Regions from separate parts of the Homo sapiens genome. Here region 2 is linked to region 1. The links come from fine-mapping of genetic effects on gene expression. A gene starts in region 1. The other region holds a variant in brackets. All regions are shown on one strand. Distances are between the middles of the regions.

Region 1 (12,738 bases):
GAACGGACAGGTTAATTTTTCAGAGCTGTTGGGGTTGCTTAATTTCTCTTTTAATTTTCTTTACAGCATGGTGAAAGCAGTTCTATTTTTCTATTTCTACACATCTTACTCTATTCTCATTGGGATCTGTTTTTCTCCTCACCAGGGCCAGGACTGGGATGAGGCAACCAAGGCTGCTAGACAAGAGTGTGGTATTTAAGGAAGCACTTCTGGTGTCAGACAAGCACAAGGTTGGCTCAGAGCGAGTGGCTCCCTGGCTCTGCACTCACAAACCTCACCCTTGCTCCAGCCCTGCTCCTCAGTTTTAGAAGATCTGCCTCCTCCATCAAGTTTGTGGTCCAAAACAAATGTTGCCCAAAACTGTTCCATTATGAGCTTTCTCAGGACCATAATTCTCCCAATATTTGATTTTATCCCCATATTCAACTTAATCACAGTATCCCAGGATATTCAGAATTTGCAGATGTAAATACTGTAGAGAGAATAATTATTTTGTTACTTTTACTGACTGGTATTTCTGCCCTTGCTAGAACCATTTCTACCACTGTTATTCACGTAAATATAGGCCCAGCATGGTGGCTCATGCCTGTAATCTCAGCACTTTGGGAGGCTGAGGCGGGCAGATCATTTGAAGTCAGGAGTTCAAGACTGGCCTGGCCAACATGGTGAAACCCCGTTTCTACTAAAAATACAAAAAAATTAGCCAGGCATGGTGGCACATGCCTGTAGTCCCAGTTACTTGGGAGGCTGAGGTGGGAAGATTGCTTGAACCTGAGAGGCGGAGGTTGCAGTAAGCCAAGATCATGCCACTGCACTTCCAGCCTGGGTGACAGAAATGAGACACTGCCTCAAAAAAAAAAAAAAGAAAAAAAGTATATAAATAATATATACAATATATATATAGCGAGAGACAGAGAAGGCAACAAAGGTTGTGAGAACATCATATGCCATTTTCTTGGTCCAGAAATGCATTACATTAGTAAATCAATATACCCTCCTTTCAACCAGCTAGATGAGATGTCCCAGGGGGTGGGGAGCAGGGTAGGAATTCTGTTTCCAACAAGCAACCTAGGTGCCCCAATTAAACCTTCCATGCATAACTATTTCAAATGCAACACAAAGTACAGACAGATGATAGGTTTCAAATTCATGTGCTGGCAAGAAATTAACATTCAGAAAATTAAAAATTTATGATTTCTAAAGGGCAATTACAATTGCTAAAAAAAAAGCAAAATGGAAACCCACAACAAAAGCCCTAAGTAAATAGCTTTTAGATTATACACAGCCAATAATAATAATAATAATAATAATTTGTTTCTTAAATATAGTCTGCTGCATAAGCGTCCCCTGGAACACTTTAAGTAACTCTGACACCCAGATCATATCTCAGTTCAATTCTCTTTGGGGTGGGCTGATGAATCAGTATTTTAATAAACTCTACATGAAATTTTTATGAAGGCTGAAGTTTCAAAGCCAGTTGTAGCAATAAATGCAAGGGAAGCACAGAAAAAGAGTTGAGGAACATAAATACAGCTAAGAACCACGTGGGGGCAGAAGATAAGGAATTGAACCATTTCTAACTGGAGTTACTGATGAGAGACAGAGAAGGAGCCTAGGCAATCACTGCAAAATATAGTGGCTGTAGATTTTTCATTTTGAAGGAAAATATAAACAGATTGAAGAGAGATAAAATCTTAAGCACAATGAACCAGATAATACCAACGGTAAAAAGAATATCTGAACAGCAGCCAGAGGAGAAAAAGACAGGTTACCTTTTAAGCAATAGTTCTCAAACTTTAAGTTACATGGGAGTCACCTGGAGGTCTTGTTAAAACACACCGTAAATATCTCTCCATTAAGAAACAAAGTAAGCCTGGGCATGGTGGCCCACACCTGTAATCCCAGCATGCTGGGAGGCCAAGGCAGGTGGATCACTTGCACGCAGGAGTTCGAGACCAGCCTGGGCAACATACCAAGACCCTGTCTCAAAACAAAACAAAACGAAAAACTCACATTTCTAGGCTCCTAAAACCGCTGCCTGGCCAACATGGTGAAACCTTGTCTTTACTAAAAATACAAAAATTAGCTGGGTGTCATGGCCCATGCCTGTAATCCCAGCGACTCAGTAGGCTGAGGCAGGAGAATTGCTGGAACCCAGGAGGCAGAAGTTGCAGTGAGACGAGATTACGCCATTGCACTCCAGCCTGGGCAACAAGAGTGAGACTCTGTCTCAGAAAACAAACAAACAAACATTAGACTGACAGCTGACTTCTCATCATTAACAGTGGAAGCCAGAAGATAATGGAACATCTTCATAGTTCTGAAATATAAAATTCTATTACCACCAAAAATGTCCACTGAGAAAGAGAGAAAGAGGTGTTTTCTGAGCACCAAAAAACAAAGTTCCTGTGGGCTTGCAACCCACAGAAAAGAGACATCATCAAAGACATACCTCAGGGAGAAAGAAGTAATTAAAGAACCAAAGCAAACAGTGGAAGAATTACACCAAAAAGTGTAAGAACCAAGTAAAGTGCTCAAAGTGATAAACATGTGAGTATAATGAAACAAGAAATGATGGTATGCAATAGCAATAATAATTTCTTCTGAGGTTTAAAAAAAGAACTCAATATGTGCAACTATGATATATCAATAAAGAAAGAATGAAAATGCATAAGAAAACCATGTAAATCAGGAGAGTAACATATGCAAATCTAGATTTAGTGAATGAGCATGGGTAAGAATTATTTAGAACAACCACTGAAATAATAGAGTAAATAAATTCAAAATGTACAGAAAATAAAAAAGGAGAATGACAAAAATACACAAAAGAAGCTAGAGAAAAAACAGAAGACAAATGTAACATTCAAATATATTAATACAGAAGATGCTAACAGAATAAATGCTTTAACTAAAATACTAATATTCACAGAATAGATTAATCCAATTATATGCTACGTACAAGAGATATCTAAAATATAAGAATACAATAAGAGCCGGGCGCGGTGGCTCATGCCTGTAATCCCAATGCTTTGGGAGGCCAAGGCAGGTGGATCACCTGAGGTTGGGAGTTCGAGACCAGCCTGACCAATATGATGAAACCCCATCTCTACTGAAAATAAAAAAATTAGCTGGGTGTGGTGCCATGCGCCTGTACTTCCAGCTACTTGGGAGGCTGAGACAGGAGAATCACTTGATTCCAGGAGGTGGAGGTTGCAGTGAGCCAAGATCGCGCCATTGCACTCCAGCCTGGGCAAAAAGAGTGAAACTCCGTCTCAAAAAAAAGAAAGAAAGAAAGAAAGAAAGAAAGAAAAAAGAGTACAATAAGAATGGAAATAAAAGGATATATAAGGCAAGTAAAAAAAAAAAAAAAGAAAGCTGGTTTGAATGTTAGTATCAGACAGAATAGATTAAGGCAAAAAGGCTCATAGAGAAAAATGAAGTATTACATAATAAAAAGTTATAAATCCAAAAAGAGGTGTGTGTGTGTGCCTGTGTGTATAAAACACAGCCTCAAAAAAAAGGAAAACACAAAAATTAAAAAAAAAAAAGGGGGGACAGAATTCTAAGGAGAAATGGATGAAGCCACCACCAGAGCTCTCACAAATCCAGTTTAAGCAGGCAGTTCAATAACTATGTGCAGATTGAACATGATGAGACAGCACTCATGGGGCCATGTTTGTCTCAGAAAATGCTTGACCACAGAGCAATGCAGTTGGCAAACAATGACCAAAAGATAACCAGAAAAAAAGTCACAGAAATGAAAATTAAAAGAAAAAAATTCTAAATCTGCATGCCAAAGAAGCCATGATATTTGATATTTATAATTAAAATACAATAAAGTATGATACTGCAATTCTTTGGGATGTGACAGGCATTCAACATAAGAAACTGGAAAGAAACATCCCAAAAAGGAAGAAAATGATAACAATCAGAAAGTTATAAAATAGAAAACATATATATCATAAAGTGGTTCAATCAAGCCAGAAGTTCTTTAAGAAGAAAACTGACAACATTCTGATGGAATTTATTTTTGTAAAAAGCAACATATAATTATTATAAATAAAAAAGTGGATAACATTACAAATGCAGCAAGCATTAAAAATTTGAGTATGTTATGAACAACCCTGACTATACGATTTAAACCTCAGATGGAATAAATAAATTCCTAAAGAAATTTTACTCATCATAACAACACAGAAAACCTGAATGCCCCACAAACCTTAAAAGAACAGAAACAATAGCTTTAAAACTTTCCACAAAGAAAACTCCAGACCCAAATGGTTTTTCCAGGTACCACTCCCGTTCTAAGGAACAAAATATTCTATTCTTATGCAAAACATTCCAGAGTTTAGAAAACAGAACACTTCTCATCCCATTTTATGAGGCTGGCATAAATCTGAAACAGAAAAGGAACATTTCACTCAAGCATAGATCCAAAAACACCAAACAAAGTATTAGCAAACCGAAGCCAAAAGTAACAAATAGTAACATGTCCTTTCCAAATTATTTACCAATACAAATTCAATGTAACAAGAGAAAATCAATTGGTTTAATTTGCCACACTACAGGATAGAAAAAAAATTATATTATTCACTCATTAATTTGTTACACAGCAGTACTGAGTGCCATAATTTAAGGTACTAGAAATGTATCAATAAACAGATACAAAACTATCAATATAGATTTTGTATCAAACAGATACAAAATGTATCAATAAACAGATACATAATGGCAAAAAAAAAAAAAAAATCACTTGTTAAAAGCCTGCAGCAATTCACAAGAAAAACTCAAGTAGGAAAAGAGGGGAGCTTCCTTGACCTAATAAAAACTATTCGACAGAAAAGCCTTCGGCAGACACAAATGACAATTCCCTTTAAGATCAGAAAACAAACAGGCTTGCCTAGAGTGTGCCATCCAAACTCCAGTCAATGACAAGGGAAGTCCCCACCCAGTCCAGCACAAAAAACAAACAAACAAACAAACAAACAAAAAAGACAATTTATCGTCTGTATAAAATAAATATTTGTATTTTCCTTTTGAATTGTACACATTTTCCTTGTCTACGAAGAACATCCAACAAACTACACAAAAGTTAGACTTTTCTGAGCACCAAAAAACAAAGTTCCCAAGAATAAATATAACAAAAACAACCTAAATCCTTTTTGCAGGTACTTATAAAACTTTACTGAGCCGGACATCGTGGCTCTCTCCTGCAATCCCAGCACTTTGGGAGGCCAAGGCCGGTGGATCACCTGAGGTCAGGAGATCGAGACCAGCCTGGCCAACATGTTGAAACCCCATCTCCACTAAAAATACAAAATTTAGCTGGGTGTGGTGGTGGGTGCCTGTATTCCCAGCTACTCGGGAGGCTGAGGCAGGAGAACCGCTTGAACCAGGGAGACAGAGGTTGCAGTGAGCCGAGATTGTCATTGCACTCCAGTCTGGGCTACAAGGGTGAGACTCCATCTCAAAAAGGAAAAAACAACAACAACAACAAAAAACACTTTATTGAAAGGCATTAAAGAAGATGTAAATAAATGATGTAAATCAATTAACTGCAACTCAATGGCATAAAAACGACAATATTCCCAAAGTTCAAATATAGATTCACCACAACTTGAAAACAAAAGTCCAGTATGTGGAATTTGGTGAACTGACTAGAATTTAAGCCATGACATTCCTGAAAAAGAATGGCTAGGTGTAAGTACTTCATCTACAAGATATTTAGAAATCTCTAAATTACAAAGGTGTGCTTGAATCAATACAGAAAAAGATTGTTTCCAAAAATACTGAAGCGCCTGAGTTCATTCACAAATAATTACCAAAATTTAGGAAATATATTTTCTGGAAAAGATGTATACGCAGTCAAATCCACGGAGACAGTATTGGTGGGAGAGGAGGATGCAGTTTAGAAGAGGCACACAGCTTTCTGAGATTTAATAATCTCTTTCTTGGCCTGGTTTGTAAATTCGCTTTACTGTTGTCCTTTTAAGTGTGTGTAAGTCTGCGTGTGTGTGTAATCATACTTTTTTTGCATGTATGTCCTATTTTCCAGTGTTAAAATATGTGCATAGGAAAGGACACACCACAAAATAAGACGGTAAAATTCAATGGAAAATATTAATAATCACGATAAGTATAACTGGACTAACTCAAGTTAATTAACAAAATGTTGAACTGAATAGTAAATATACATATAGGCTATTTACAAGAGTCCACTAAAATTAAAATAAATAAAAAAGTGCAACCAGAAGGTCTTAAATTAAAAATATAAAAGGTACTCAAGGTAAGTGCTAATAAGAACACCAATGTGCTGACATTCACGAGATAAAATTGACTACAGCGCAGAAAGAAGGTGATTTCTCCTCGCGATGTCCAAATCCTGACGCCCCCCAATCTCCTGAACTGCCCCCAAACTCTTGAATTCACTTCAGCCGGGCTTTTCCGCCCCCACCAGAGACTTAGGGCTTTTCAGGATCAGGTGACCAATGCTTCTCTCATCACTAGCTGCAATGGTCCAATTTTATCCTTCGCGTCCCCAGCTTTTCATATCGCTGATCGCGAGATCTAAACGCACCCCTCGTCTGGATGCCTAGCTCTTTAGCCCCCGACCCTCGTACCCTCTTAGTCCTCACCGCCAGATAGGCCTCCCGTGACCCCTGGAACTGAGGGGGAGAAGGGTTAAGGAAAGCAGGGCTTACACGACTGGGAATAGGATCGGGGGAGCGGAGGTGACGGAAGCCGCCGCCGATGCGAAGAGAAGTTCATACGGGAGGTCCAGTCTGGCGTGGGGACACGAGGGGTCCCCAACAGGCCGAAAGAATTCGCCGCTGACCCCTCCTTGGCCCATGTGTCTCGGGGCAATCGACTCCAGAGAGTAATGGCTTCCGCTTCACTGCCGCCTTCCAATTCTCGCGGGACTTCATTGGCGGCGTCTAATACGGAAGCGGGGCGGAGAGGATGCTGGGAATTGTAGTTTTGAAGTTTGGATTGGCATGGCGGCCGTGCCCCGGTGGAATCTGACGGTCCAGCATATTTCTCCAATTTCTACTCAAGACTCAAATTTTCAACCACAACCCACAGCATTTTGTAGCCATCGTAGTGGTAAAGGTTGAATCAGGCAAGAATTGTCATCTACATGACACAACTGGGGGACATTTGCATGACGAGCAGAATATTTGAATTGCCTTAAATGCCTCTCTATAAACTGCTCGTATGTTGGAATGGAGAAAAAGTAATAGAAATTGTACAGCGAAGAAATTGGACAACATCTGGACCAGGTGATCAAATCAATATCACCAGTGAGGGTCAGATGGAGACCACGTGCCTCTGAATGACACCTTGGGAAGGGCGTAAAATCACCATCACCTGTGTGGTGTTCATCCTGCATATCTGCTATTTTGTATTTTTTGACCCACATCTTCCCATTTTCTTCCCCAACTGCCTCATTCTTTATTTCTGTGTATTTGAGCTGTCTCTCTTGATTAAAAAAAGTTCCTCATGTAAGTGACGTCATGCAATATTTTTCTTTTTGTGTCTGGCTTATTTCACTTAGCGTAATGTCCTCCAGGTCCACCCATCTTGTGATAAATGTCAGGACCTCCTTCTATTTCAAGGTTGAATAATATTCCGTTATATATATTATATGTTTTATACAATGGAATATATATTATATCATATTTATTATAATTATGTATTATGTGTATTATTACCGTATATTATATAATATATGCTAAAATAATATATGTATGTATGTTATATATATTATGGAATATATATTATATATAATATATATTATTTTAGCAGGAGGAGTCTGCATATACAAAATTCCAGAATCAGGCTGGGTACAGTGGCTCACACCTGTAATCTCAACACTTTAGGAAACCAAGGCTTCCCATGTAACCAGTAGGGGCAGAATTATATAGGCAGGAGAGACAGATGGTTAGTATTATCCAGGGCAGGTATTATAAAAGACAGAGAGAAGGAAATTTGAGGTTTTGGAAAATATATTATTGAGGGGATGGACCATGGTGCGTATATATATATATACACACACATATAAAATGTATGTATGGAATATATATGGATATAAGATATTCATATATAATATATAATCTATATTACATAACGTAATATATATTTCATAATACATAATATATACACCATAATATATAGCATATATACATATAATAATACATATAATATATAATATGTATTTCATATAGTATATTATATACATATATTACATATAATATATTACATGATATATAACATAATGGGAATATCTATTATGTAATAGGTATATATTTATATACAACATATTATATTAATATTTAATATAATATGAAATATATATCAATATTATATGATATTAATGTTGACATCATATATAAATACAAAAGAGATAGAATATTATTCAGACTACATAGCTGCTATTTTGTATTTCGTATTCATGTGAGCATCAATGGACATTCAGGTTGTTTCCGTAACTTGGATATTGTAAATAATGCTACAATGAAAATGAAAGTGCAGACATCGTTATGAGGTGATTATTTCATCTCTTTTAGGCATATATTCAAAAGAGGAATTGCTGGGTCATATAGTAGTTCTGTTGTAGATTTCTTTAAGAGCCTGAATACTGTTTTCCACAAAGGTTGTACCAGTCTGCATTCCCACCAACAATGTACTAGGGTTCACTTTGCTTGATGCCCTCGCCAACATTCATCTCTCATCTTTTTTTTCCTTTTTTTTTTTCTTTTTGCAATGGAGTTTCGTTCTTGTTTCCCAGGCTGGGGGGCAATGGTGAGATCTCAGCTACCGCAACCTCCGCCTCCCGGGATCAAGCGATTCTCCTGCCTCGGCCTCCCGAGTAGCTGGGCTTACAGGCATGCACCACCACGCCCAACTAATTTTGTCTTTTTAGTAGAGACGGGCTTTCTCCATGTTGGTCAGGCTGGTCTCGAACTCCCGACCTCAGGTGATCCGCCCGCCACGGCTTCCCAAAGTGCTGGGATTACCGGCTTGAACCACCGCGCCCGGCCTCTCCTATCTTTTTGATGATAGTTCTCCTTAAGGATGTGAGGTGATATCTCACAGTGGTTTTAATTTGCATTTCCCTGATGATTAGTGATGTAGAGCACCTTCTCATATACCTGCTGGCCTTTTTTATGCCTTCTTTGGAAAAACGTCTGTTCAGACCCTTTGCCCATTTTAAAATCAGGTTATTTGTTTTTCTGCTATTGATTTATAAGAGTTCTTTATAAATTTTGGATATTAACCCCTTATCAGATATGTGGTTTGCAAATATTTTTTCCCAGTCCGTGGATCGCCGATTCATTCTGTTGATTGTTTCCTTTGCTATGTAGAAGCTTTTTAATTTGATGTAGTCCCATTTGTCTACTAATTTTTGCTTTTGTAGTCTGATCTTTTGGTGTAATATCAAAAAAATATATATATATATATTTGGTCTTTTATCCATTTTGAGTTGATTTTTGTGTATGGCGTAAGATAAGGGTCAAATTTCCTTCTTTTGCATGTGGAAATCTAGTTTTCCTGGCAGCATTTACGGAAGAGGCTATCCTTTTCCCATTTTGTCCTCTTGGTGCCCTTATTGAAAATTAGTTCATCATATATGTTTGGATTTATTCCCAGGCTCTCTGTTCTGTTCCTTTAGTTTCTATTTTTATGCCAGTATCATGCCTTTTTTTTTTTTTTTTTTCTTGAGACAAGTCTTGCTCTGTCACCCAGGCTGCAGTGCACGGCTCACTGCAGCCTCGATCTCCCGGGCTCAAGTGATCCTCCTGCCTCAGCCCCCCAAGTATCTGGGACTACAGGTGCATGCCACAGCGCCTGTCTAATTTTTGTATTTTTCATAGAGACAGGGTTTCCCTATGTTTGCCCAGGCTGGTCTTGAACTCCTGGGCTCAAACAATCCACCTGCCTCATCCTCCCAAAATGCTGGGATTGCAAGCGTGAGCCACCACGCTGGGTCCCTTTTTTTTTGAGACTTAGTTTCACTTTTGTCGCCCAGGCTGGAGTGCAATGGTGCGATCTCGGCTCACTGCAACCTCCGCCTCCCGGCTTCAAACAATTCTCCTGCCTCAGCCTCCCGAGTAGCTGGGATTACAGGTATGAAGCCTGTAATTAGCCATCATGGCTGGCTAATTTTGTATTTTTAGTAGAGACAGGATTTCACCATGTTGGTCAGGCTGGTCTCGAACTCCTGACCTCAAGTGATCCACCCGCCTTGGCCTCCCAAAGTGTTGGGATTACAGGCGTGAGCCACGGCGCCAGGCACGTTTTTTTTTCTTTTTTTATTATTATACTTTAAGTTTTAGGGTACATGTGCACATTGTGCAGGTTAGTTACATACGTATACATGTGCCATGCTGGTGTGCTGCACCCACTAACTTGTCATCTAGCATTAGATATATCTCCCAATGCTATCCCTCCCCCCTCCCCCCACCCTACAACAGTCCCCAGAGTGTGATGTCCTTCCTGTGTCCATGTGATCTCATTGTTCAATTCCCACCTATGAGTGAGGCACGTTTTGATTCTTAACAAGGACAATTGTGCCACCTGTGGAGACGCCTTTGGTTTTACCACTACCCGGGATACTACTGACATCTAGTGGTTAGAGTATAGAATGCCCTACTCCCTCTAACAGAAATACCAGGTCCTGAATGTCAGTCGTGCCAATGATGAGAAACCCTTGCATAGAAAAGTAGGAGATGGCCGAGCGCGGTGGCTCACGCCTGTAATCCCAGCACTTTGGCCGGGGCGGGTGGACCATGAGGTCAGGAGTTCGAGATCAGCCTGGCCAACATGGTGAAACCCCGTCTCTACTAAAAATACAAAAATTAGCCGGGCGTGGTGGTGCGTGCCTGTAGTCCCAGCTACTCAGGAGGCTGAGGCCGGAGAATCTCTTGGACCCAAGAGGTAGAGGTTGCAGTGAGCGGAGATCGTGCCACTGCACTCCAGCCTGGGTGACAGAGACTCTGTATCAAAGAAAAAAAAAAAAAAAAGCAGGAGATACTGGCTGTAGATAAGAAGGCAGACATCTCATTGCTTGCAGAGTGAAAGAAGAAAGAACTGGTGATGTTGTTACTGGACTACTTTCGCACTAGTGTCAAGAAGGTGAGAAATCTCTCGAATCTAGGATAAGAGAAAAAATAAAGAAGGTGAGAAATCTTTCTCATGGTCGTTACTATTTCTCTCTGCAGTAAGTTGTAAAATCATTTGTTATTAAACAGGGAAGTTGTGGCCGGGCGCAGTGGCTCATGCCTGTAATCCCAGCACTTTGGGAGGCCAAGGCGGGCGGATCACGAGATCAGGAAATCAAGACCATCCTGGCCAACATGGTGAAACCTCGTCTGTACTAAAAAAATACAAAAATTAGCTGAGCGTGGTGGCGCGTGCCTGTAATCCCAGCTACTCGGGAGGCTGAGGCAGGAGAATAGCTTGAACCAGGGAGTTGGAGGTTGCAGTGAGCCGAGATGGTGCCACTGAACGCTAGCCTGGGAACAGAGCAAGACTCTGTCTCAAAAAAAAAAAAAAAAAAAAAAAAAAAAGAGGGAAGTTGAGATGGTGTGAATTCAAAATCCTGCAGAAATCATGAAAAGATCTTTGCCCACTGGAAATTTCCTGAAGTGTCGAAGGCCCCTTTAGAGTAGGTGATCTCAAATTTTTTAGCGCTTCCCATATCACCGCGTGGCGGCAGAATTATGTAGGCAGGAGAGACAGATGGTTAGCGTTTTCCAGGGCAGGTATTATGATAGGACAGAGAGTAGGGAATTTGAGGTTTTGGAAAATATATGATTGAATCTCAGTTACCTAGTTAAAGAAATGAGGTTGGCCAGGCGCGGTGGCTCACGGCTGTAATCCCATAACATTGGGAGGCCAAGGTGGGTGGATCACCTGAGGTTGGGAGTTCAAGACCAGCCTGACCAACAAGGAGAAACCCCGTCTCTACTAAAAATACAAAATACCTGGGCATGGTGGCACATGCCTGTAATCGCAGCTACTCAGGAGGCTGAAGCAGGAGAATGGCTTGAACCTGGAAGCAGAGGTTGCAGTGAGCCGAGATCTTGCCATTGCACTCCAGCCTGGGCAACAAGAGCAAAACTCCATTTCAAAATAAATAAATAGAATACAAAAATTAGCTGGGCATGGTGGCGGGCACCTGTAATACCAGCTACTCAGGGAGGCTGAGGCAGGAGAATTGCTTGAACCCGGGAGGTGAGGGTTGCAGTGAGCTGAGATCACGCCATTGCACTCCAGCCAGGGCTACAGAGCAAGATTCCATCTCAAAATAAATAAAAATAAATAAATAGCAACATGGTTGAAGAATAGATGGCTTGGAGGCCTCTATGCATTAGGAGAGGAGATGCAGTAAGGCCGAAAGGGTGAAGAAGTTGGGGCCGGGTGCAGTGGCTCATGCCTGTAATCCCAGCATTTAGGGAGGCAGACAGATCACTTGAGGTCAGGAGTTCAAGTTCAGCCTGGCTAACATGGTGAAACCCCGTCTCTACTAAAACATAAAAATTAGCCAGGCATGGTGGCACACACCTGTAATCCCAGCTACTCAGGGAGGCTGAGGCAGGAGAACTGCTTGAACCCAGGAGGTAGATGTTGCAGTGAGCTGAGATTGCACTACTGCACTCCAGCCTGGGTGAAGGAGCAAAACTCTGTCTCAAAAATAAAAGAAAATAAATTATCCTGAATCATGGCATAGCTGGG
Region 2 (12,738 bases), 26 kb before region 1:
TCCAACTAACATTTACATTGAAACTAGTAGACTAACATATAGATATATGTGTGTGAGCCAGGCACAGTGGCTCATGACTGTAATCCCAGCACTTTGGTAGGCTGAGGCAGGAGGATTGCTTGAGCCCAGGAGTTTGAGACTAGCCTGGGCAACATAACAAGACTGTGTCTCTACAAAAATAAAAAAAATAGAATTAGTCAGGCATGGTAGTGTGTGCCTATAGTCCAGGTACTTAAGAGGCTGAGGTTGGCAGATGGCTTAAACCCAGGAGGTTGAGGCTGCAGAAAGCTATGGTCATGCCACTGCACTCCAATCTGGGTGACAGAATGAGACCGAGTCTTTAAAAAAAGAGAGAGAATAAAGGAAATGTGTGTGTTCTCCAATCTGTCCCATATTACCTTTCAAGTCTGCCTCTTACTCCAAAGATTGTCTTTTATCTACAGAATGTAATATACTGTCATTTTTTCAGTGCCTTTGCACTCAGGATTAGCATGCTTATTTGATTCTGCTCCTGAACTCTTAATGAGCCTTCTACAAGGCAGGCCTCGGTGGCTCATGCCTGTAATCCTAGCACTTTGGGAGGCCGAGGTGGGCAGATTGCCTGAGCTCAGGAGTTTGAGACTGGCCTGAGAACACGGTAAAACCTGTCTCTACTAAAATACAAAAAATTAGCCAGGCATGGCAGCGTGTGCCTGTAGTCCCTGCTACTCGGGAGGCTGAGGCAGGAGAACCGCTTGAACCCGGGAGGCGGAAGTTGCAGTGAGCTGAGATCGCGCCACTGCACTCCAGCCTGGGCAACAGAGCGAGACTCCATCTCCAAATAATCATAATCACAATCATAATCATCCTTCTACACTGAGCTTGCATCATCTCTTCTACTTAGATTTTCTTGATGGCCCCCAGTTCAACATCTTCCTCATCTGGGGCCTCCCAAATGGATTCACCTGCCATACTAGGTGTCTTATTTACTGTTAATATCGCTCTTCTCCTAGACCTTTACTTTCTTAAGGGCAGTACTTTGTCTTATTGATCTTTCTTCCCAAAACCTAATTAAAAGTGTAAGGCACTTAGCTAATATTCATTGGGTATATACAATAGGTTCCCTAGCAGGGAAGAATTCCTGAGTGGATTGGATGTTACCCAAAGGTTACACAAGACAGAGATTTTCCCTGCTGGAGAGGGTCCAAGAACTGAAAACAAGACTCAGACAAGCAGACTGTGTTCCTGTAATTAGAAGTTCCCTCCAGAGACTGTGTGACACTTTCTTTCTGAGAACTGGCAGGGAAGTGCAATGAGAGGCAACTGTCATGGGCCACTGAGGTTATCCATGGAATTCATTATCGGGATGGAGAAATTGGGCACAAAGGGACCAGTTATGCTGGTTCCCAAGGCTCATTTAAAAAATGGCCGATTTTACTCAATGCTGAGAGAAAGTACTCTCTTCCCCTTGGGCCCGGCCTCTAGGGTACACATTCTTTTTCTCAATCCTGGCAATAGCCAGTGAGTAATTGCTATTTCTTCACTAGTGAGCCTAGGAAAACTTTTGACCAAGGCTTGCTGAACGTTCAGCATTTTCACTTGGGGATGTAAACTGCCCCGACTACACACTCAAAGTCCTGCGTGGAAGCACTGCCAGGGGAAAGGAAGGGATTTCAGGAAGCCAAGTGGAACACCACAAGCCCCTTTGTCATGTGCTCTGAGCCCAGCAGATCCACTGGTTGATGCAGGCATGAAAGGGGTCAAGAGGTGAAACAAGAGCTGAATGTCAGAGTAAGCACTTGACACTAGTCCCAGTTTCCAGCTGGTAAGTTGACTCTTTGACATGTCTCTTTCTCTGCAGAAAGTAAATGACTGGCCTCCAGTGTTGTTGGGAAGACTGGTCAATCTATGAAAAAAGTGCTCCAATCCGCCATCTTCTTGGTTGAGGTAGAGAAAAATTATCACCAATGTTAGGTCAAAATAACTGTCAAGGGCCCAGCATGGTGGCTCACGCCTGTAATCCCAGCACTTTGGGAGGCCGAGGCAGGCGGATCACCTGAGGTTGGGAGTTCGAGACCAGCCTGACCAACATGGAGAGACCCCCCGTCTCTACTAAAAATACAAAATTAGCCGGGCATGGTGGCACATGCCTGTAATCCCAGCTACTCAGGAAGGCTGAGGCAGGAGAATCACTTGAACCTGGGAGGCAGAGGTTATGGTGAGCCAAGATCGCGCCAGTGCACTCCAGCCTGGGCAACAAGGGCGAAACTCCATCTTAAAAAAAAAAAAAAAAACTGTCAAGTCCCAAGGCTGGTGTAATCCCAGCACTTTGGGAGGCCGAGGTGGGCAGATCACTTGAGGCCAGGAGTTCAAGACCAACCTGGCCAACATGGCAAAATTCTGTCTAGTAAAAATACAAAAATTTGTCAGGCATGGTGGTGGGTACCTGTAACCTCAGCTACTCCTGAGGCTAAGGCAGAAGAATTGCTTGAGCCTGGGAGGCAGAGGTAACACTGAACCGAGATCGTACCATTGCACTCCAGCCTGGGTGACAGAGCAAGACTCTGTCTCAAAATAATAATAACAATAAATAATAATAATAATCAGCTTTTATTCTGAACTCAAGAAAGTAGCATTGGGCTACAGACAAATCAAGGAACTCATGTTGCTTAAATGTAAGCGTTTTCTTGGGCAAAAGATTAAGACCTTGGAGGCCAAACCAGATAGAAATGAATGGACTGGAAGAAAATGCAGATCAAACAGTCCTTGAAAACAGAAATAACCGTCGAGTTTTGACAAGTGTTCTTCAAATCTTGCAACCTGAAAACCAAATACAGTGAGAGAAGCAGGGTCTCATGGAGCAAGCTGGAATTGCTCTTGTCATGACAGAAAGAAATGCTTTGATGATTCCTCAGTAAGCATTCCCAGCCCTGTTCTGTTTTAGGAGAAACTGAAATGTACAGGAAAGCTGCCTCTTGAGGATTTCTGTGATGATTTTGTTTCCTAAAAAGGTAAAGTGGCCAAAAATGAGTGTACGCCCCTGTCTCTACTAAAATACAAAAAAATTAGCAGGGCGTGGTGGCAGGTGCCTGTAGTCCCAGCTATCTGGGAGGCTGAGACAGGCGAACCGCTTGAACCCGGGAGGCAGAGGTTGCAGTGAGCCGAGATCGCCGCCACTGCAGTCCAGCCTGGCGACAGAGCGAGACTCCATCTCAAAAAAAAAAGAGTATACGCTGTACACTGCACAGGTTGAACGGGTCAATCCCATCTGTCTGTTCCCCTCCTCAACTTTACTCTTCCTCACAGCATTTATTCTTCTCCGCATTTACTTTTCTTCCTAGTGTTTATTTATTCGCTTGTACTCTGGCTCCAAAGTTTAACGTCAAGATTACTATGAATGGGACCAGTTTTGTGTACTGCTGCCTTGCCAAAGCCTATAAATACCTGGACAAGAAAGTCATTAGTTAATTCCCAGTATTTATGAGAATGTAGTATGACATTGCTAGCATTTTAATGTAGCTGATAAAAGTCATTTCGTAAGTGATGGAGGTAAAATGAGTTATCCATTCTGACAAGATCTCTAAGTACAACATACCCTGCCACCAAACTGATGGCAACTCTTAGACCTTCTCAAGAGACACAAATACCCTCATACTCACACCTCCAAAGGGACCAGGGATCTCTGGTCTAAAAAAACCCAAATCCAAGCTGAGACACACACTTAACAGTCCCCCAAGGGCTTTTACAAAGAAGAAACTTAGCACAATACATAATATATATATATATATATATATATATAATTTTTTTTTGTTTTGTTTTTGTTTTTTTTTGAGACACAGTCTCGCTGTGTCACCAAGGCTGGAGTGCAGTGGCAAAATCTCGGCTCACTGCAACCTCCGCCTCCCTGGTTCACGTGATTCTCCTGCCTCAGCCTCCCAGGTAGCTGGGAATACAGATATGCACCACCATGCCCAGCTAATTTTTTTGTACTTTTAGTAGAGACGGGATTTCACCATGTTGTCCAGGCTGGTCTCCAACTCCTGACCTCATGTGATCCCCCAGCCTCAGCCTCCCAAACTGCTGGGATTACAAGCATGAGCCAATGTATCTGACTGATACGTAAATATTTTGCAAGTAACCTGCCTGACTGCAAACCCTTGGCCTCTCTACTCCAAACTCCAAACTCCAAACCCAGGTTTCCCAGGACACACATATTAGGAATGCATGGATGTGTTCACTCAGGTAAGGAACGATGCCCGCAATGGCCAATGTGTGCAGAATAACAATGTAAGGCCAGGCGCAGTGGCTCACGCCTGTAATCCCAGCATTTTGGGAGGCCAAAATGGGAGAGGATCACTTGCGGTCAGGAGTTCGAGATCAGTCTGGCCAACATGGTGAAGCCTTGTCTCTACTAAAAATGCAAAAAATTACCTGGGTGTGGTGGTGTGTGCCTGTAATCCCAGCTACTTTGGAGGGTGAGGCAAGAGAATCCCTTGAACCTGGGAAGTGGAGGTTGCAGTGAGCTGAGATCATGCCATTGCACTTGGCCTGGGCGACAGAGTCAGGCCCTGACTTAGAAAAAGAAAAAAAAAAAAAAAAAAAAAAAAAAAAGAGGGAAATGGAGAAATTGGAGAAAAGAGAGAGACAGAATTTTAAAAATCTAGAGAAAGAAATATAAAGAGAGAGAGAGAGATGGAAAGGGAAGAAAGTAAAACCACTTAGCTAAGGAAGCTCAAAAATGAAAATGTGGAAATGGGAGAGGGTAGAAGGCTGTTGGAGAGGGAGTCTGAGGCCCTCAGATGAACCAAGTATGTAAGGAAGAAAATTAAGGAATAAATCTGTCCCGAATGTCAAAGTCAGAGTCCACCACTCGTAGGCTCCCACCCTGGAAACACACTAGGTCCTTCCGTTGTGCTGAATGGCAGAAAGACGGCTGAGCAGACCATGTGAGAGCACAAACACTATCTCCAGCAACACAGGAGTCCAGGGTCTTCACAGCCATGAGGTCCCCGCCGGGCCTCCAGGCTTAATCTCAATCTTGCCATTTTCCTTCCTGGTAACTAAAAACAATGGCCAAAGCTCCATCATGGAGCTTGGATTCCTGTGCAATTGGGTTCTGCTTGCAACAGAAGGTGGTTTGAAAACAACCTTTTAATGGCATCAGACCCACTTGTCATCACTGCATGGCTGCTGATGGGTACCTGAGACACCTTCTTTGTAGGATTTCCTTGTTCCTTGGCAGGGTTTCTAATGAAATAACAGGAGGTGGAGGGGAGGGCATGTGTGGGGGGTGTCAGTTACTACATGTTTGTTTTTTTTTTTGACCGAGTCTCACTCTTTCGCTCAGGCTGGAGTGCAGTGGTGTGATCTCGGCTCACTGCAACCTCTGCCTCCCGGGTTCGAGCAATTGTCCTGCCTCAGCTTCCCAGTAGCCGGGACTACAGGCACGCGCCACCACGCCCGGCTAACTTTTGTATTTTTAGTAGAAATGAGGTTTCACTATGTTGGTCAGGCTGATCTCGAACTCTTGGCCTCGTGATCCTCCCTCCTTGGCCTCCCAAAGTGCTGGGATTACAGACATGAGCCACTGCACCCGTCCCAGTTACTGCATCTTGAAGAAATCAGGCTTGGGGATGGGAGCAGGAAAACACATCACCCTTTTCAGTTATTACACAAAGCTGTGCACAGCAAGGCTTATTACCACTACACCTACCTCTCCCTTCATTCCTCCCTGGGTGGCCAGGGCAGGCCAGGAGGCATTGTGTTATTGGCTTAGGGGACCACCACATTCAGAGCAAATTCAAGCTACAACAGGGAGAAGCACCTGTTTTCCTAAGGACCTCAGACATCTGGATTTTAAGGAGTCACTAAATGGATTCCACAGATGAAGAGGACAGAAGAGTTAGTGAACTTTAAGATATATCAGTAGAAGTCATACAAACTGGAAAACAAACACATTAGAAAAAT[G/A]AAACAGGAACTTCAGAGTCCTGTGGCGCAGCTGGAGTCCCAAAAGGAGAAAATGAGGAAGAAAACAACTTCGGAAAATTCCTGAGAATTGAAAGCAGGAACTCACACAGACACTTGCATCCAATGTCCATATTGTAGGGGCAACAAGATTTCACCTTCATCATCTTAGGATCCTTGCTGGGCCTGATAATTACACCGACATACGATTAGGTTAACAAGATTAAAGCATACACATGTATTTGTTTAATGAAAGTTTTATGTGGCATGGGGTTCCTCATAAGGAAACAAGCCAGAAAAGCAGTTAAGAGCCAAACACTTATAAACTGAATTGGACAGACAAGTAAACTGCGCTAATGGGATAAAACCAAGGGTGTGGGCTAGGGTGGTTAATCAGGTAGAGAAGTGGCTCAGAAGCCGTAGTGTAATGAGGTTGGTTTGGATAGATCTCCTTTGCCTCAACTTTGCATCCTTCATGCTAAGAATGCTGTCTTCAGGCTGGGCGCAGTGGCTCACACCTGTAATCCCAACACTTTGGGAGGCTGAGGCGGGCATATCACCTGAGGTCAGGAGTTCAAGACCAGCCTGACCAACATGGTAAAACTCCGTTTCTACTAAAAATACAAAAATTAGCCGGGCATGGTGGCAGGCTACTCGGCGAGTACCCAGCTACTTTGGAGGCTGAGGCAGGATAATTGCTTGAATCCAGGAGGCAGAGGTTGCAGTGAGCCCAGATCGCGCCACTGCACTCCAGCCTGGGCAACAGAGCAAGACTGCATCTCAAGAAAAAAGAAAAAAAAATCATCAATATCAGTATGATTCACAATAGCCAAGAGGTAGAAACAGCCCAAATGTTCATCAATAGATGAATGAATAAAACGTGACACATACATGCAACAGAATTTATTAAGCCATAAAAGGGAATGAAATTCTGATACATGCTACAACATGGATAAGCCTTGAAAACATTACTTTTAATGAAATAAGGCAGACGCACACAAAACAACGTATTTTATTATTCTACTTCTGACAAAATTCATGGACACTACCTACAAGTTACCAGGGGCTGAAGATAGAAGTGTTGAGGAGTGATTGCTTAATGGGTACATAATTTTTTGGAATGAAGAGAAAGATCTGAAAATGGATAGTGGTGGTAGCCAATATTGTCAATGTACTTAATGCCACCGAACAGTACACCTAAAAAATGATTAAAATGGGGCTGTGCGCGGTGGCTCACACATGTAATCCTAGCACTTTGGGAGGCCGAGGCAGGTGGATCATGAGGTCAAGAGATCAAGACCATCCTGGCCAACATGGTGAAACTCCATTTCTACTAAAAATACAAATATTAGCTGGGCATGGTGGTGCGCACCTATAGTCCCAGCTACTCAGGAGGCTGAGGCAGGAGAATTGCTTGAACCCAGGATGTGGAGGTTGCAGTGAGCCAAGATTGCACCACTGGACTCCAGCTTGGGCAACAGAACGAGACTCTGCCTCAAAAAACAAAAACAAACAAACAAAAAAACCCAGTGAATTTCATGTTATGTTTATTTTACCACAATTAAAAAATTATGAAGAAATAATGGCCAAATACTTCCTTGTGAAAGACAGTGACTCACGTATCTAAGAATCTGAAGGATCCCCAAGCAGAGTAAATGCACAGGAAACTGCACCAAGACACAGAGTCAAACTGTTGAAAACCCAAGATAATTATCTGAAGAGGAGCCAGTGACAAGCAACACATTACTTACATTACTTACAGGGGAATAATGTTAAGAATAACGCTAACTTTTAGTCAGCAACAATGGAGGCCAGAAGACAAAGAAATGACCCCTTTAAAGCATATCCAGACCAGGCGCGGTGGCTCACACCTGTAATCCCAGCACCTTGGGAGGCTGAGGCAGGCAGATCACCTGAGGTCAGGAGTTCAAGACCAGCCTGGCTAACGTGATGGAACCTCAACTTTACTAAAAATACAAAAATTTGCCAGGCATGGTGGTGCAAACCTATAATCCCAGCTACTCAGGTGGCTAAGGCACAAGATCGTTTGAACCTGGGAGGTGGAGGTTGTAGTGAGCTGAGATCATGCCACTGCACTCCAGCCTGGGCGACACTCTGTCTCAAAAAATAAATTAAAATAAAATAAAATAACATATTCAGCCAAAGTATCTCCAAAAACTAAGGTGAGGAGACTTCCAGGTAACTAAAAACAATGGCCAGTGAGTGGTAAGCAACCTCCCCAAATCCCCTTTCAAATGCTGTGAAGTAACTCCACACCTATGAATCTTCTACACAAAACTATACCTTCAACACTGCCTTTAAGACATAGAGAATGCCAAAATTGCAACATAACTATGAGTAAAATGAGAAAAAGCATTAAATCTTAGCACCACGGTCCCACACATGCCCACCCCAAGGCTCTGTTAGGTAAACTGCAAGAAAGAGGGATAGCTGGTGGGGGGGCCTGAGACAGAGCTGGAGCAAGACCCTCAGAATCATCTACCCTTAATTTGAAAATGCAAAAAAACAAAACAGAATCAAAACCCTGGCCAATCATAGGAGAACTGCAGGAAACAGACTTAAAACTATGTGTCATTTATAGGCCGGAGCAACTGTGTCTCACACTGCTAATAAAGACATACCTGAGACTGCCTAATTCATAAAGAGGTTTAATGGACTCATAGTTCCACATGGCTGGGGAGGCCTCACAATCATGGTGGAAGGTGAATGAGGAGTGCTGTCTGAATAGCCCACCCCTTAATTTGCATGTAATTAAAACTGGGTATAAATACTGCTAGCCAACAGCCTATATGCTGCTACCCTGGGTATACTGCCTATGAGTCAGCCCTGCTCCACAAGGGGCAGCCACTCTGCTGTGCCCTGCTGCTTCAATAAACCCAATTTCTTTTACTGCTGGCTGCCTCTTGAATTCTTTCCTGAGCAAAGCCAAGAACCCTCCTGGGCTAACCCCCAGTTTGGGGGCTCATCTGCCCTACATCATCAGCAGAAAAATAGAGACTCAAAGAATCAGAAGGAAAGATCAGAAATCAAAGCCACCATAAAGAAACGGAAGAATGCCTTTGATAGGCTAATCAGTCATCTGAACATGGCCGGGCGCGGTGGCTCACGCCTGTAATCCCAGCACTTTGGGAGGCCAAGGTGGGCGGATCATGAGGTCAGGCCATCAAGACCATCCTGTCTCACACGGTGAAACCCCATCTCTACTAAAAATACAAAAAAATATTAGCCGGGTGTGGTGGCGGGCACCTGTAGTCCCAGCTACTCAGGAGGCTGAGGCAGGAGAATGGCATGAACTTGGGAGGCAGAGCTTGCAGTGAGCCGAGATCGCGCCATTGCACTCCAGCCTGGGTGACAGAGCAAGACTCTGTCTCAAAAAACAAACAAACAAAAAAAAAAAAACAAAAAAAAACCACACAACTGACCAATGACCAGGTGTATGGGCTCCAGGCAGCATCCAGCTGGGTGTAGAAACCCCCTCCCACCAATAAACAAATGAAATAGAAAAACAAGCTGGGTGTGGTGGCACATGCCTGTATTCTCAGCTACTTGGGAGACTGAGGCAGGAAGATTGTTTGAGCCCAGGAGTTCGAATCTAGCCTAGGCAACATAGGGAGACCCCCATCTTAAAATAAATAAATTTAAAAGAAAAACAATGAAATATCCATAGCAGCTTAAACCAATAATCAGTTTTATTTTTTCTCATGTGATAGAAGTCTGGAAGTCCAGGGCTGCTGCAGACACTCAAAGAGGCCACAGGGGAGGCCAGGGTCGCTGTGAGCTTTCTGCAGTCACTTCCTTAGACTGTGGTTTTCATATGCACGGTCGTTAAGGTGGATCTTCCAATACTAGGTACTGGATCTCTTTGCAAGGTGAAAAGTAAAGCAAAGAACAAAACATACAGGGAGGAATTCATGTTTAAGAACGATCCCCATTCAAGAGCTTTCTCAGAAGCCCATGTGGTGACATCTGCTGATCTGTCAGTGGCCAGGGCTGTGAGACATGGATGGTACCAGCTGCAAGAAAACCTGTAAGAGATTTTTTAAAATTTAGATTAGCACACCTTACTAATCTGACAGAACCTGGATTCTCTTGATATTGGAAGAAGATGAGAGTGGATACCGGGGAAGTCACTAGAAGTATCTGTCACTCTTGGCTGGACAGCAGGCTGCAAACATATTACCACTTGATGGAGGCATCATGCTCTGGTCGCAATCCGTGTGCATCAGGTACCAGTAACAAAGTGGTACTGAGAAATATCCTCATGTCACATAGATCTCAATATGCCATTGGTCAAGGAGGTTGTCCAGAAGGAAATTAGGACGTTATCAAGGATGAAGCTATAGTAAAAATACTATAAACAAACCTTTCTTGATGAGGCTTAAGGGTTATTTAGAGGAGTATAACCTTAAAAATAAAGATGAAAAATTTATGAACGGGGCTCTGTTTTCATGATGAGAGAGTACGTGCAGTCCCGTATTCACCGGAAAATCTCGTTGGGGCTTCTCTCGGGGGGTCTGTTTCCGTGATGAAAGAGTAAGTGCAATCCCGTATTCACCGGAAAATCTCGCTGGGGCTTCTCTCCGTGAGAATATTCACATGCTCAAGTGAGGGGACCATGGCTGGAATCATTTCCACATAGGAATTATCAGCACTAATTGTATTTTAAAAGTTTTGTAAAAGAAATTTCTCCTAGCGTAAGTGCTCACAAGATTCATAAAAATGGAGGAATTGCTGCAGGCAGTAATTGAGGAATGACTGCATGATTATTTTCAACCTCAGCAACAGTGACGTTTGGGGGCACTAACTCTTCGTTGTGGGGGGCTCCTGTGTGCTGGAGCCGACTTAGCAGCATCTCTGATGTCTTCTTATTACAAGTCAGGAGTATCTTCCCCCCATTCTAACTACCAAAAATGTCTCTAGACATTGCCAAATGACGCCTAGACAGCCAAATCGTCGCCCGACTGAGAACCCGTGCTGTAGACCAAGGGTCGGCCAAGTTTTTCTGGAAAGGGGCAGATGACAGGAAGTATTTCAGACTTCATTGGCCACAAATTTTCTCCATCAAACATTCTTCTTCCTTAAAGATGGAACCACTATTGTTAGCTGGCAAGCCATACAAAGACAAGCAGCTGGCCGTGGTTTGCGGCCCATTCATGACCTTCCACGTTCCTTACTTCACTGATTTCTCTCTTTAGTGTGATTTCCGTCATGAGGAATCAAGTGAGACTAGGAAGGGTTTCCCCAGCCACTGTGTTTACAGAGATGCTCCCTAGTGTGCTCATTATTACTCATGGGCCCAGAAGGCTAGAAGTGGTCTGAAGTCATTTTGACATTAAATGCCACGGCTTGGATTTTGACATTAAATGCCAAGCTGCCATTAAGTCCTCCTGTGTTTGTTAAGAGCTGAATGTACCCTGAAGGCTTCTCCATGCTACAGACGTACATTTTCACCCCCGGCGTGAGTTCTCACAAACCTCCTATGGGATGAGAACGCCTCGTCTTCCCAGTTTTTACAGGAACTGGACTTCTCCCAAGTTCCGTGGATTCTTTTGCACCCAGTAAGGTGCGAGCTCACAGAGGCTTCCTCTTACACCCACGAGGTCTGTTTCCGGTCTGAATCATCCTGTGTCTCTAAAGCAGGCGCGCTCACTGGAGCCTTTTCCACACGGATGACACAAAGAGCTTCTCTCCCCGGTGAGTTTTCACGTGGCTCCTGAGGGATGAGTGGTCGCTGAAGGCTTTCCCGCAGACAAGGCATTCGTAGGGCTTCTCCCCGGTGTGGATCCGCCTGTGCACATTCAGGTTGGAGCCTATGCTGAAGGCCTTCCCACAGTGATCGCATTCGTACGGTTTCTCCCCCGTGTGGCTTCGCATGTGCGTCTTCAGCGTTGACTGGTTCCTGAAGGCCTTGCCACACTGCCTACACTCAACTCGTTTCTTTACAAGGTGAACGCTCATGTGCCTCCGCCGGGATAAATAGTCACCGAAGACTTTCCCGCAGGCGGCGCATTCGTAGCGTCTCTCTTGCGTGTGTATCTTCCTGTGTGCGGTGAGGTTTGAACTCGCGCTGAAAGCTTTCCCGCAGAGATCGCACCCGTATGGTTTCTCTCCAGTGTGAGAGTTCATGTGAGTCTTAAGGATGGACTGGTTTCGGAAGGTCTTCCCGCACTGCCGACATTCCACGGGTTTCTTGACGATGTGAATCCTCATGTGTTTCCTCCGGGACACGAGATCGCCAAAGGATTTCCCGCATTCTTTACATTCGTAGGTCTTCTCCACCATGTGGTTCTTCTTGTGCAAATTAAAGTTGGACTTCCAGCGGAAGGCTTTGCCGCACTGCGTGCACGCGTAGGGCTTCTCCCCCGTGTGATTCCTCACGTGCTCTTTGAGGTGGGAGGGGTGCTGGAAAGCTTTCCCACAGTCGTGACACTCGTAGGGCCTCTCTCCGGTGTGCGTTCTCTTGTGTGCGATGAGGTGGCAGCTCCGGCCGTAAGCCTTCCCGCACTGATCACACTTGTAAGGCCTCTCGCCAGTGTGAACTCGCATGTGGATTTTCAGGGCCGAGAGGGTCCGGAATGCATTTCCACACTGACTGCAGTCAAAGGGCTTCTCTTTGAGGTGAGTTCTTGCGTGGCTCCTAAGGGCTGAAGGGTCGTTGAAGGCTTTCCCGCAGTCGCTGCACTCGTAAGGCTTCTCCCCGGTGTGGATTCTCCTGTGCCGTGTGAGGGACGCGCTCGTGGTGAAGGCTTTTTGGCACTGATGACATTCATGCAT

The links.
Region 2: its variant is fine-mapped to the expression of ZNF317 in monocytes after interferon gamma (Fairfax 2014, PIP 0.95).

Annotation. Positions count from the first base shown.
Region 1 is chr19:9,134,556-9,147,293 of GRCh38, reverse strand. It overlaps ZNF317 (zinc finger protein 317), which reads right to left and starts at 6,897. Exons shown (of 7, transcript NM_020933.5): 1 at 6,702-6,897. RefSeq lists enhancers at 6,875-7,084, 7,135-7,234.
Region 2 is chr19:9,160,306-9,173,043 of GRCh38, reverse strand. It overlaps ZNF317 (zinc finger protein 317), which reads right to left. Exons shown (of 7, transcript NM_020933.5): 7 at 9,631-12,738. The coding sequence ends at 11,611. Among named protein-coding and RNA genes, the nearest start is that of OR7D2, 12 kb to the left of the region's middle. RefSeq lists an enhancer at 12,708-12,738. The variant G/A (reference allele first, on the strand shown) is at 5,947.